3 linked regions of the Homo sapiens genome follow. The protein of the gene in region 2 interacts with the protein of the main gene of each other region in a pairwise test. Each region holds a gene or a part of one and is shown on either strand. Other genes may lie near its edges. The genes, in order: TRIB3, CHAF1A and H3-3A.

Region 1 (3,650 bases), on a different chromosome or scaffold from region 2:
TGTTACTTTTCAGTTATCCGATGTTTGAGGCCATATAGCGTAGCAGTTAAGAGCACAGACAAAAGGCCGGGTGCAGTGGCTCACACCTGTAATCCCAGCCCTTTGGAAGGCTGAGGCGGGAGGATCACCTGAGGTCAGGAGTTCGAGACCAGCTTAGCCAACATGATGAAACCCCATCTCTACTAAAAATACAAAAATTAGCTAGGTGCGGTGGCACATGCCTGTAATCCCAGCTACACTGGGGGCTGAAGCGGGAGAATCACTTGAATCCAGGAGGCGGAGTTTGCAGTGAGCTGAGATTGCGCCAGTGTGCTCCAGCCTGGGTGACAGAGCGAGACTCCGTCTCAAAAAAAAAAAAAAAAAAAAAAAGCACAGACAGTGGAGTGCATACGTGCAAATCTCAGCCGTGCTGTTTGCTGGCTGTGTGGCCTCTCAGCTTCGTTAACCGTAAAATGGAGCAAGTCATCCTACCTTATAGGACCATGGTCAGGGCTGAGTGACTCGGTCAGTGAAGCGCTTGGTGCGATGCCTAGCACATGGTAGTGTCTAATAGGTCAGCTGTGACTGTTTGCAATGCCAGCCTCAGCTCCCGGGAGTCCCCAGCTGTGCTAACACCATGCTCTGCCCACAGGTGTACCCCGTCCAGGAAGCCCTGGCCGTGCTGGAGCCCTATGCGCGGCTGCCCCCGCACAAGCATGTGGCTCGGCCCACTGAGGTCCTGGCTGGTACCCAGCTCCTCTACGCCTTTTTCACTCGGACCCATGGGGACATGCACAGCCTGGTGCGAAGCCGCCACCGTATCCCTGAGCCTGAGGCTGCCGTGCTCTTCCGCCAGATGGCCACCGCCCTGGCGCACTGTCACCAGCACGGTCTGGTCCTGCGTGATCTCAAGCTGTGTCGCTTTGTCTTCGCTGACCGTGAGAGGTGAGTGTGGTCTCAGAGACCCCAGCCACAGACACACCCAGGGGGTGGGCCATGATGGAGAGAAACCGAGGCCCAGGAAGGCAAGGTAACTTAGGCAAGAAGTGGGAGAAACTGAAGTAACCAGCAGCCCCTGTTTAGTTCCCTGAGAAGAGTTGACTCAGGCCAGGTGCAGTGGCTCACGCCTTTAATCCCAGCACTTTGGGAGGCCGAGGTGGGTGAATCACTTGAAGTCAGGAGTTCGAGACCAGCCTGGCCAACATGGTGAAACTCCGTCTCTACTAAAAATACAAAAATTAGCCTAGTGTGGTGGCGCACACCTGTAATCCCAGCTACTCTGAAGGCTGAGGCAGGAGAACTGCTTGAACCTGGGAGGCGGAAGTTGCAGTGAGCCAAGATCACGCCACTGCACTCCAGCCTCGGCAACAGAGTGAGATTCCATCTCAAAAAAAAAAAAAAGAGTTGACTCAGTCCTCTTGGGAGCCCCTTGGGATTCTGGGATGGAGCACTGAGATGTGAAAGTCATAGTAGCCGACAGTGACGAAAGCATCGCCACATTATCTAACGTGGTCTTCCATCCTTACAAACACGAGGCAGGTACTGTTATTATCCCCATATGATCAAGGAAACTGAGGCCCAGAGAGCTCAAGTAACTTGCCCAAGATCCCATAGCAGAATAAATGGTAGAGCTGGGATTTGAACCTAGATCTGACTCCAGAGCCTGGGTCTTAATTCAATCTGAGCTTGAGAGGCAGGGGCCTGGCTGGGCTTACCAACTGACTTTGGGTGACCTAGTGTCTCTGAGCCTCAGTTTCTCCGTTGGTAAGGAAAAGGGCTGGATTGTTAGGGTGTTTTCAGGATTCCAAGACCACAGCCAAAATAGGGTCTGAGGTTCCCCACACGGGAACGTTTTCTGTGAAACTGAGAATTAGCACTTTTTGGTTAAAAGAATCTTCCTTCTCTAGGTTGGGATGCTAAGAATTTTTTTTTTTTTAATTGAGACAGAGTCTCACTCTGTCACCCAGGCTGGAATGCAATGGCGCGATCTTGGCTCACTGCAACCTCTGCTGCCTGGGTTCAAGTGATACGCCTGCCTCAGCCTCCCGAATAGCTGGGACTACAGGCATGCGCCACCATGCCTGGCTCATTTTTTCTATGTTTAGTAGAAACGGGGTTTTGCCATGTTGGCCAGGCTGGTCTTGAACTCTTGACCTTAGGTGATCCGCCTGCCTCGGCCTCCCAAAGTGCTGGGATTACAGGTGTGAGGTACTGCACCCAGCCTAGACGCTAAGAAAAATTTTTAAAAGATAATTCTGGGGAGAAGGGCAGAGAGACTCGCCTCCTGTTCCCTCTCCAGATTCCTGGGGGCAGTCAAGATGTGTCAGGGAGTGCACTAAGCTGCCAGTTACACAGGAGTTTTCTGTGGAGAAAGGAGTGTGACCCCATGGCATTTTAAAAAACTTTTTATCTTGAAATAATTTTAGACTTTTAGAAAACCTACAAAAATAGTTCAAAGAGTTTCTGCATATCCTTTAACCAGTGCTCTCCAATGTTAACACCTGACGTAGCTATGGTACAATTACCCAAACTATTAACTAAGCCACAGATTGATTCCCACTTCCCGAGTTTCCCACTAACACCCCTTGCTGTGCAGGATCCAGTGAGGATCCCAATTTAGTCATCAGTGGTTTCCTTGGTCTCTTCCAATCTGAGACAGTTCCTCAGTCTTTCCCTGTCTTTGAAGACCCATGACCTTGACACTTTTTTTTTTTTGAGACAGGGTCTCACTCTGTCACCCAGGCTGGAGTGCAGTGGTGTGATCACAGCTCACTGCAGCCTCAACCTCCCGGGCTCAAGTGATCCTCCCACCTCAGCCTCCTGAGTAGTTGGTTCTACAGGTGTGTGCCACCCCACCTGGCTAATTGAGATGGGGTCTTGCTATGTTGCCCAGGCTGGTCTCAGACTCCTGAGCTCAAGCAATCTGCCTGCCTCAGCCTCCCAAAATCCTGGGATTATAGGCGTGAGCCACTGCTCCTGGCCATAACCTTGAGACTTTTGAAGAGTACTGATCAGTTACTTTGTATGTCCCTCAATTTGGATTTGATTGATGTTTTCTCACAGTTAGATTGCAGTTATGTATTTTTGGCAAGAACAACACAGAATCGATAGGCCCCTCTCCACATCATATCAAGAGATACTTGAGCTGATAGTCATTCCTATGTCGTGACCTTGATCACTTGGTTAGGGCAGGACCTACCAGGTTTCTCTACTGTAAGGTCCTAATTTACCCTTTGTAATTGACAAATACCTTGGGGGAGGTAAGCTAGGCATATAAATATCCTGTTTTTCCTCAACTTTCACCCACTAATTTTAGCAGCCATCCATCTTGCCTATAGCAGTTATTATTGTGGTGCTTGCCTAAGTCTAATTTTCTTTTTCTTTTTTTTCTTTCTTTCTTTTTTTTTTTTTTTTGAGACAGAGTCTCGCTCTGTTGCCCAGGTTGGAGTGCAGTGGCACGATCTCGGCTCACTGCAACCTCCACCTCCCGGGTTCAAGTGATTCTCGTGCCTCAGCCTCTTGAGCAGCTGGGATTACAGGCACACACCACCACACTTGGCTAATTTTTGTATTTTTAGTAGAGATGGGGTTTTGCCATGTTGGCCAGGCTGGTCTCGAAATCCGCCTGCCTTGGCCTCCCAAAGTGCTGGGATTATAGGCATGGGCCGCTG
Region 2 (3,650 bases):
ACAACCTCTGCCTCCTGCGTTCAAATGATTCTCTTGCCTCAGCCTCCCGAGTAGCTGAGATTACAGGCATGTGCTGCCACGCCCAGCTAATTTTGTATTTTTAGTAGAGACGGGGTTTTTCCATGTTGGTCAGGCTTGTCTTGAACTACTGACCTCAGGTGATCCGCCTACCTCGGCCTCCCAAAGTGCTGGGATTACAGGTGTGAGCCACCACGCCCAGCTACAGTGTCTTTCATTATACTGAAATTTCTCCTTTTGGCCAGGTGCGGTGGCTTATGCCTGTAATCTCAGCATTTGGGGAGGCCAAGGCGGGTGAATCATCTGAGGTCAGGAGCTTGAGACCAGCCTGGCCAACAAGGTGTCTCTACTAAAAATACTAAAAATACAAAAATTAGCCGGGCGTGGTGGTAGGCGTCTGTAATCCCAGCTGCTCATGAGGCTGAGGCAGGAGAATCGCCCAACCCAGGAGGCAGAGGTTGCAGTGAGCCGAGATTGCACCACTGTACTCCAGGCTGCGCAATGAAGCGAGACTCCATCTCAGAAAAAAAAAAGAGGAGTTGTGATCTTTCAAAAAAAGACCCTGTCTTTTTTTTTTTTTTTTTTTTTTTTTTTTTTTGAGAAGGAGTCTTGCTCTGTTGCCCAGGCTAGAGTACAGTGGCGTGATCTGGGCTCACTGCAACCTCTGCCTCCCAGATCCAAACGATTCTCCTGCCTCAGCCTCCTGAGTAGCTGGGACTACAGGTGCCCACCACCATGCCAAGCTAATTTTTGTTTTGTTTTGTTTTGTTTTGTTTTTGAGATGGAGTCTTGCTCTATCCCCCAGGTTGGAGTGGTGCAGTGGCACGATCTCGGCTCACTGCAACCTCTGCCTCCCAGGTTCAAGCAATTCTCCTGCCTCAGGCCCAGGCTAGAGTACAGTGGCGTGATCTGGGCTCACTGCAACCTCTGCCTCCCAGATCCAAACGATTCTCCCGCCTCAGCCTCCTGAGTAGCTGGGACTACAGGTGCCCACCACCATGCCAAGCTAATTTTTGTTTTGTTTTGTTTTGTTTTTGAGATGGAGTCTTGCTCTATCCCCCAGGCTGGAGTGCAGTGGCACGATCTCAGCTCACTGCAACCTCTGCCTCCCAGGTTCAAGCAATTCTCCTGCCTCAGGCTCCCAAGTAGCTGGGACTACAGGTGCATGCCACCGTGCCCGGCTAATTTTTTGTATTTTAGTAGAGACCGGGTTTCACTGTGTTGCCCAGGCTGGTCTCGAACTCCTGAGCTCAGACAATCCACCCGCCTCGGCCTCCCAAAGCGCTACAATTACAGGCGTGAGCCACCGCGCCTGGCCTAATTTTTGTATTTTTAGTAGAGACGGGGTTTCACCATCTTGGCCAGGCTGGTCTCGAACTCCTGACCTCAGGTGATCCGCCCTCCTCAGCCTCCCAAAGTGGTGGGATTACAGGCATGAGCCACTGCCCCTGGCCTAATTTTTGTTTTTAGTAGAGATGGGGTTTCACCATGTTGGGCAGGCTGGTCTCGAACTCCTGACCTCAGGTGATCCGCCTTCCTCCGCCTCCCAAAATGGTGGGATTACAGGCATGAGCCACTGCCCCTGGCCTAATTTTTGTTTTTAGTAGAGATGGGGTTTCACCATGTTGGGCAGGCTGGTCTCGAACTCCTGACCTCAGGTGATCCGCCCTCCTCAGCCTCCCAAAGTGGTGGGATTACAGGCATGAGCCACTGCCCCCGGCCTTTTTTTTTTTTTTTTTTAAGTGAGGTTTGTTGAGATATAATTTACATCCAATAAAATAAACTCTTTTCAGGACATTTGTGTTGACAAATGACAGGGCCAGCTAACCATAATGAAGATAAACCCTATTTCCATCACTCAAAACAGCTCCCTTGTAGTCTGTCCCCCCACCGCCGGCCCTTGAGACTGCCAATCTGCCCTCTGCCCTGTAGCTCTGGAAACTCGGCTCTGTGGACCCACACAGTGCCTGGGCTTTTGAGTCTGTGCCTTGGCCTTAGCCTGGATGAATCCCACCAGCACCCTGCTGTGTGCGTCCATGGTGCCTCCTTTCTCCCATTGCTCGAAGACCCCATCGGGTCTCTTCTTGATTTCAGACCCTGGCCGGCTCCTGTGGGAAGTTTGCCCCCTTTGAAATTAAAGAGCACATGGTCCTGGCCCCTCGGCGTCGGACCGCTTTCCATCCAGACCTCTGCAGTCAGCTGGACCAGCTCCTCCAGCAGCAGAGCGGCGAGTTCTCCTTCTTGAAAGACCTCAAAGGCCGGCAGCCCCTGAGGTCCGGACCCACGCACGTTTCCACCCGGAATGCAGATATTTTTAACAGGTCAGAGCCTGAGGAGGTCGGCCTTCACCCACTAGTGATGCTGGAGGCCAGCATCCTGAACCCTGGGGTCCCCGGGGTGGGAGCTCTGGGTCCTTCTGTTGCTTGCTTCCTAGTGCCCTCGGGCCCTGGGCTTCGGTGCTGGCTCAGGCCTCTCTCCACCTGGCCTTCCTGTAAGCTCCTGAAGTCTTCCTCTCCCTGTCTTCCCAGCTCCTCGTGGAGGAATCTTATTTCCCTGCTGGTCTCCAGTGAAGGATACCCCCCAACACCTCGCTCTTGCAAATCTCATTCCACAGAACCTCCCTTGCTAAAAATGCTCTGGGGCTGCACCTGGGCAGCTGTCCTCCCTCTCACCCTGCAGGCTGCACCCTCCTCCATCTGTCCCTTCAGTCCATGTTCCTGACCTTTCTTTGGGGACAGGCAGTGCTGCTTTTTAACAAATGCCCATCTTTCTAGAATTGTTAGGCCAGCTTCACAGGGAGGTTCCTGGGAGGTTTGTGAGCAGGTCTGTAAGGCAGCGTGATCCTGAGCCTGGGGTTTTCCTTCTCAGTGATGTCGTCATCGTGGAGCGTGGGAAGGGCGACGGTGTTCCCGAGAGGAGGAAGTTTGGCAGGATGAAGCTCCTGCAGTTCTGTGAGAACCACCGGCCTGCCTACTGGGGTACCTGGAATAAGAAGACGGCACTCATCCGCGCGCGAGACCCCTGGGCCCAGGACACGGTGAGCTAGCCCCAGAGTGCCTCCGTCCCCGTACCTCCTCACTGTGCCCCTTTCCTCCAGCCCCAAAGACAGTTGTGAGTCCCATGTGTTTCTTTTCTCAGAAGCTCCTGGACTATGAGGTGGACAGTGATGAGGAGTGGGAAGAAGAGGAGCCTGGGGAGTCCCTGTCCCACAGTGAGGGGGTAAGGATGTGCCCCAGCTGTCTTCACTCACAGACGGCTTGTGTTTGAGTCTCTGTCCCACAGTGAGGGGCTAAGGATGCAGCCCAGCTGTGTTCACTCACTGACAGCTGGTGTTTGACCTGCTGTGTGGTCTGAAACCTGAACGCACCTCAACATCCAGACTTCCAGCTTCTCTCGAAAAATCTCATCTGGTGACACTCGCCCACGTGGCTGCTGGGGATGGGATCCCGTCCGCATCTGCACCGTGGCCCCACAGCCCCCTCTTGCCTCCTGCGGGCCTGCTGCACACCATTTCCTCCTGACTGCCCAGCTGCTGTGACCTAGTGGGCTTTCTGCCGATGCTCACCGTGTCTGTCGGGAGGCCATGCAAAGCAGATGTTCACAGCTTTACATTTTTTTGTTTCTTTAAGATG
Region 3 (3,552 bases), on a different chromosome or scaffold from region 2:
GGAGAATTGCTTGAACCCGGGAGGCGGAGGCTGCAGTAAGCCGAGATTGCACCACTGCACTCCAGCCTAGGTGACAGAGTGTGACTCGTCTCAAAAAAAAAAAAAAAAGGTACTTTCACATTTCTAGCTTCATCCTTTTTAGCCCTATCACTACTCTTCTACAAGTTTCCTTCATTCAAATTGAACTATTTTCACGTGTGTTTCTCCAGCATTTGTTATTAACAACTAAGTCTTACTTATCTACCCTTTAAGGCCCAGCTCAAGACTATTCCATGAAGGAGAAAATCGCATACTTGTCTCTTGCTCCTGTTGCCAGTGCAGGCAACCCTGAACTCCTAGTTCCTTGGCACTCACAATGACCTTGCATTATCAGCCATTTTTTGGTGCCCTTAAGTTACTTGATAACAGAAATCTCATTTAATACTCCAAATGCCTTGTCCTCAAGTAGATTTTCAATATTTGCTAGTTTTAAAAAATGTTTCTATTCTATGCAAGTAGTCCCTCGCATCTTACCTATTCCACAGGTATTAAAAGCAAAAGTCCTTAATATTCCGAGATTCGTTCTTAAGATATTCTAGAAGTGGGTAGAAATCCTGGAAAAAATGGCATATTGTAGCCTCCTTAGGGGCTCACAACGCATATCAGCTATTATATCAGGAAAGAAAACAGTTTAATTTTGCTTAACCTGGCACCTCGGGATTACAGAAAGCTAGAATGCTTTTGTAAAATGTGGTACAAGCTACTATGCAAGCAAACCATCAGGCACCATGGTTCTGGTGGCCTTTCAGAGTGGTATCACTTAGAACCACTCAGATGTGGCATGTGGTAGCTGGGGCTCTCACTGCTGTCTTAGAACCTGGCTACTAGTTTATAAGGATTGTGTCTGGTCAGCTCTGAGAGGAGACTGAACTCCTACGAGAGGATCTGACCATGACCCATACATTTCCAATTTTATTACAAGTAACCCAAAGTCCCTTAAAACATTAAGGCTGTAATGGGAATTAAAGACTGCCACACTAATTTATGACCTAATGAATTAATTTTGATTTAATGGCAAAGAAAAAAAAGAACTACAAGAAAGTATTAGTTTAGGACATTTTGAGTATATTCAACGTCTGCCTCTTTACCATTTCAAAGCAACACTGTCCACTTAACACAAGAATATTTGAGTTCAAGTTCTCAGACATTAAAAGCAAAGACTATATTTTAAGTAAGTCAATTATTGATTATCTATGGCAAACTGAGACTAATTTCTCCTCTACCATTCTCACTGGACTGCCTGCTATCCTTTAGTTGTAAAGTGTGTAATTCTAAGGCCAAAAACAAAGGACCTTTGGATTTCTACTTCAATTGCGATCTTCTATTATCCTATTCCATTAACAAATTCTCCCTCTGTTATCTTTTTTTTTTTTTTGAGACAAGAGTTTTGCTCTTGTTGCCCAGGCTGGAGTGCAATGGCGCCATCTCGGCTCACTGCAACCTCTGCTTTCCGGGTTTAAGCAATTCTCCTGCCTCAGCCTCCCTAGTAGCTGGGATTATAGGCGCCTGCCACCACGCCAAGCTAATTTTTTGTATTTTTAGTAGAGAAGGGGTTTCACACCATGTTGGCCACGCTGGTCTGGAACTCCTGACCTCAGGTGATCTACCCACCTCAGCCTCCCAAAGTGTTGGGATTACAGATGTGAGTCACGGCGCCCGGCCCACTCTCTGTATTTTTAAGATAACTAAAATATATGCATAAAAAAGCAAACAGAAAACACAAAAGCTTAACAAAGATCACTCTTTCCAATAAAGAGCTATCTAACACTAAGAGAACTGTGGACAGAAGAGGTGAACATTTTGCTTAAAACCAATACAACCACACTTAATGACAAATATGTAATAGTAACAATGGAAGTTTACATGTGAATAATTTTAGAAAGATGAGTCTTTTACCCAGATTGTTTAGTAAATTCAATTTAAAAGGCTACATTATTGACATTTAAGCTAAAAACGCTACACTTTTCAAGTACAGTATTGTTCTTTAAGCACAGTTCTAACTAGAAAATATTAGCAGCTTTGTACCAATGCTTACGAATCTTAGTAACATTTCTGTATTTAGTAATAAATAAGAACTGAAGATAATCGGCTATTAAAACAGAAAATAAAGTTTTAAGTAAAAACATGGAAGATTTTAGTAGTTGAAATTTCAGCAACTCACTGAGAATTTAATGGATGCCTACTCCTGGAATTCACCAATCAAATGAAGTTTAGATTAACCATAGAAACAGCTCGACCAATTACACTTCAGGGTGGAATCCACCTATCCTATCTTTCTCATACATAAAGCAAAAGCCCAGCACAGCAACAGCAGCCTTGAAAATCCTCCAATGGAATGTACTTAGATTCTGGATGCCCCCTCCCCACCCCCAGAATGATTCAGGTCTGCAATGGTGCCTAACAATCAGCATTTTTAACGACCCCCAACTGCATGCTTCTGATGGAGGTGGTAGCTTTACTGTATTCTGGGATACTTGCAACTAAAGAATCCAACCACACAATATAAAATAGGTTACTTAAGTGACTGATGTTAATGACGTCTACATACCTTTATCAAGTATCTTGTAGGAATTTCAAGTTTTGGTCTTAACTTAAACCACAAATATCTCAAATACATAAATATCTCTAGAACAGTATTTCTCTAAGTCCTGACATGCTAGAGATTAAGATTAAATTCAATATGCTCCACATGTAAGTGGCAATCCCTAATCCCCTTTAGGAAACCACAAGGCAAATCCTGGCCCCTTTACACGTCCAGTATCACCTTTAAGCACCGTTCCCCCAATCTTGCCAATCCAATCCTATCCTCCACTCACTGCTCCTTTTACGTCTTAATGCATAATTTTTTAATACTGCCTATTCCCATCCTAGGTATTAAGCTCTCTCTACCTATATGTTTCTTCAGGACCTGAAGAGACATTTCTTTTATTCTAGGCACTGTTGTTTGAAATTGTTACTACAAATATAGACCTCTAGTCTCAAGTTCTTCTTAATGTCCTGCAGCATCCATAAACCAAACCAGAGGATTTTCTTTAAATATTGTTTTTAGTGCAATGTTTCAAAATTTTAAATGGTATAATGGAATGTGCACTAAGCCTTGGAGTCAAATAGGTTCAAATTATGGTTTTGCCATTTTCTACGTGTATGACCTTGAGCAATTTAACCTTTCTGAAGTCTCAACAGTGAAGTAACAATATCAACTACCTGACAGGCTTGTGATTAAATGATATAAGCACATGCAACAATTTGGAACTGTTCTTGGTACACAACAGGAATACAAACTCTGAGTCTTCCCACCCACCATTTTACCTGCAAAGCACCGATAGCTGCGCTCTGGAAGCGCAGATCTGTTTTAAAGTCCTGAGCAATTTCTCGCACCAGACGCTGGAAGGGAAGTTTGCGAATCAGAAGTTCAGTGGACTTCTGATAACGTCTAATTTCACGGAGCGCCACAGTACCAGGCCTTTAAAAAATTAATAAAGAAACTGTTACCAAAAACATAACTAGCACAAA

Evidence for each region.
Region 1: the proteins of CHAF1A (region 2) and TRIB3 interact in binary tests that used the Homo sapiens proteins (3 or more experiments, as listed by UniProt).
Region 3: the proteins of CHAF1A (region 2) and H3-3A interact in binary tests that used the Homo sapiens proteins (3 or more experiments, as listed by UniProt).

What each region holds. Positions count from the first base shown.
Region 1 is NC_000020.11:390,656-394,305, forward strand, and holds part of TRIB3 (tribbles homolog 3), read left to right. Parts: intron 1-631; coding exon 632-924; intron 925-3,650. UniProt on the Homo sapiens protein: Inactive protein kinase which acts as a regulator of the integrated stress response (ISR), a process for adaptation to various stress. Inhibits the transcriptional activity of DDIT3/CHOP and is involved in DDIT3/CHOP-dependent cell death during ER stress.
Region 2 is NC_000019.10:4,426,552-4,430,201, forward strand, and holds part of CHAF1A (chromatin assembly factor 1 subunit A), read left to right. Parts: intron 1-2,112; coding exon 2,113-2,339; intron 2,340-2,886; coding exon 2,887-3,055; intron 3,056-3,156; coding exon 3,157-3,237; intron 3,238-3,650. UniProt on the Homo sapiens protein: Acts as a component of the histone chaperone complex chromatin assembly factor 1 (CAF-1), which assembles histone octamers onto DNA during replication and repair.
Region 3 is NC_000001.11:226,065,606-226,069,157, reverse strand, and holds part of H3-3A (histone H3.3), read right to left. Parts: intron 3,503-3,552; coding exon 3,349-3,502; intron 1-3,348. UniProt on the Homo sapiens protein: Variant histone H3 which replaces conventional H3 in a wide range of nucleosomes in active genes. Constitutes the predominant form of histone H3 in non-dividing cells and is incorporated into chromatin independently of DNA synthesis.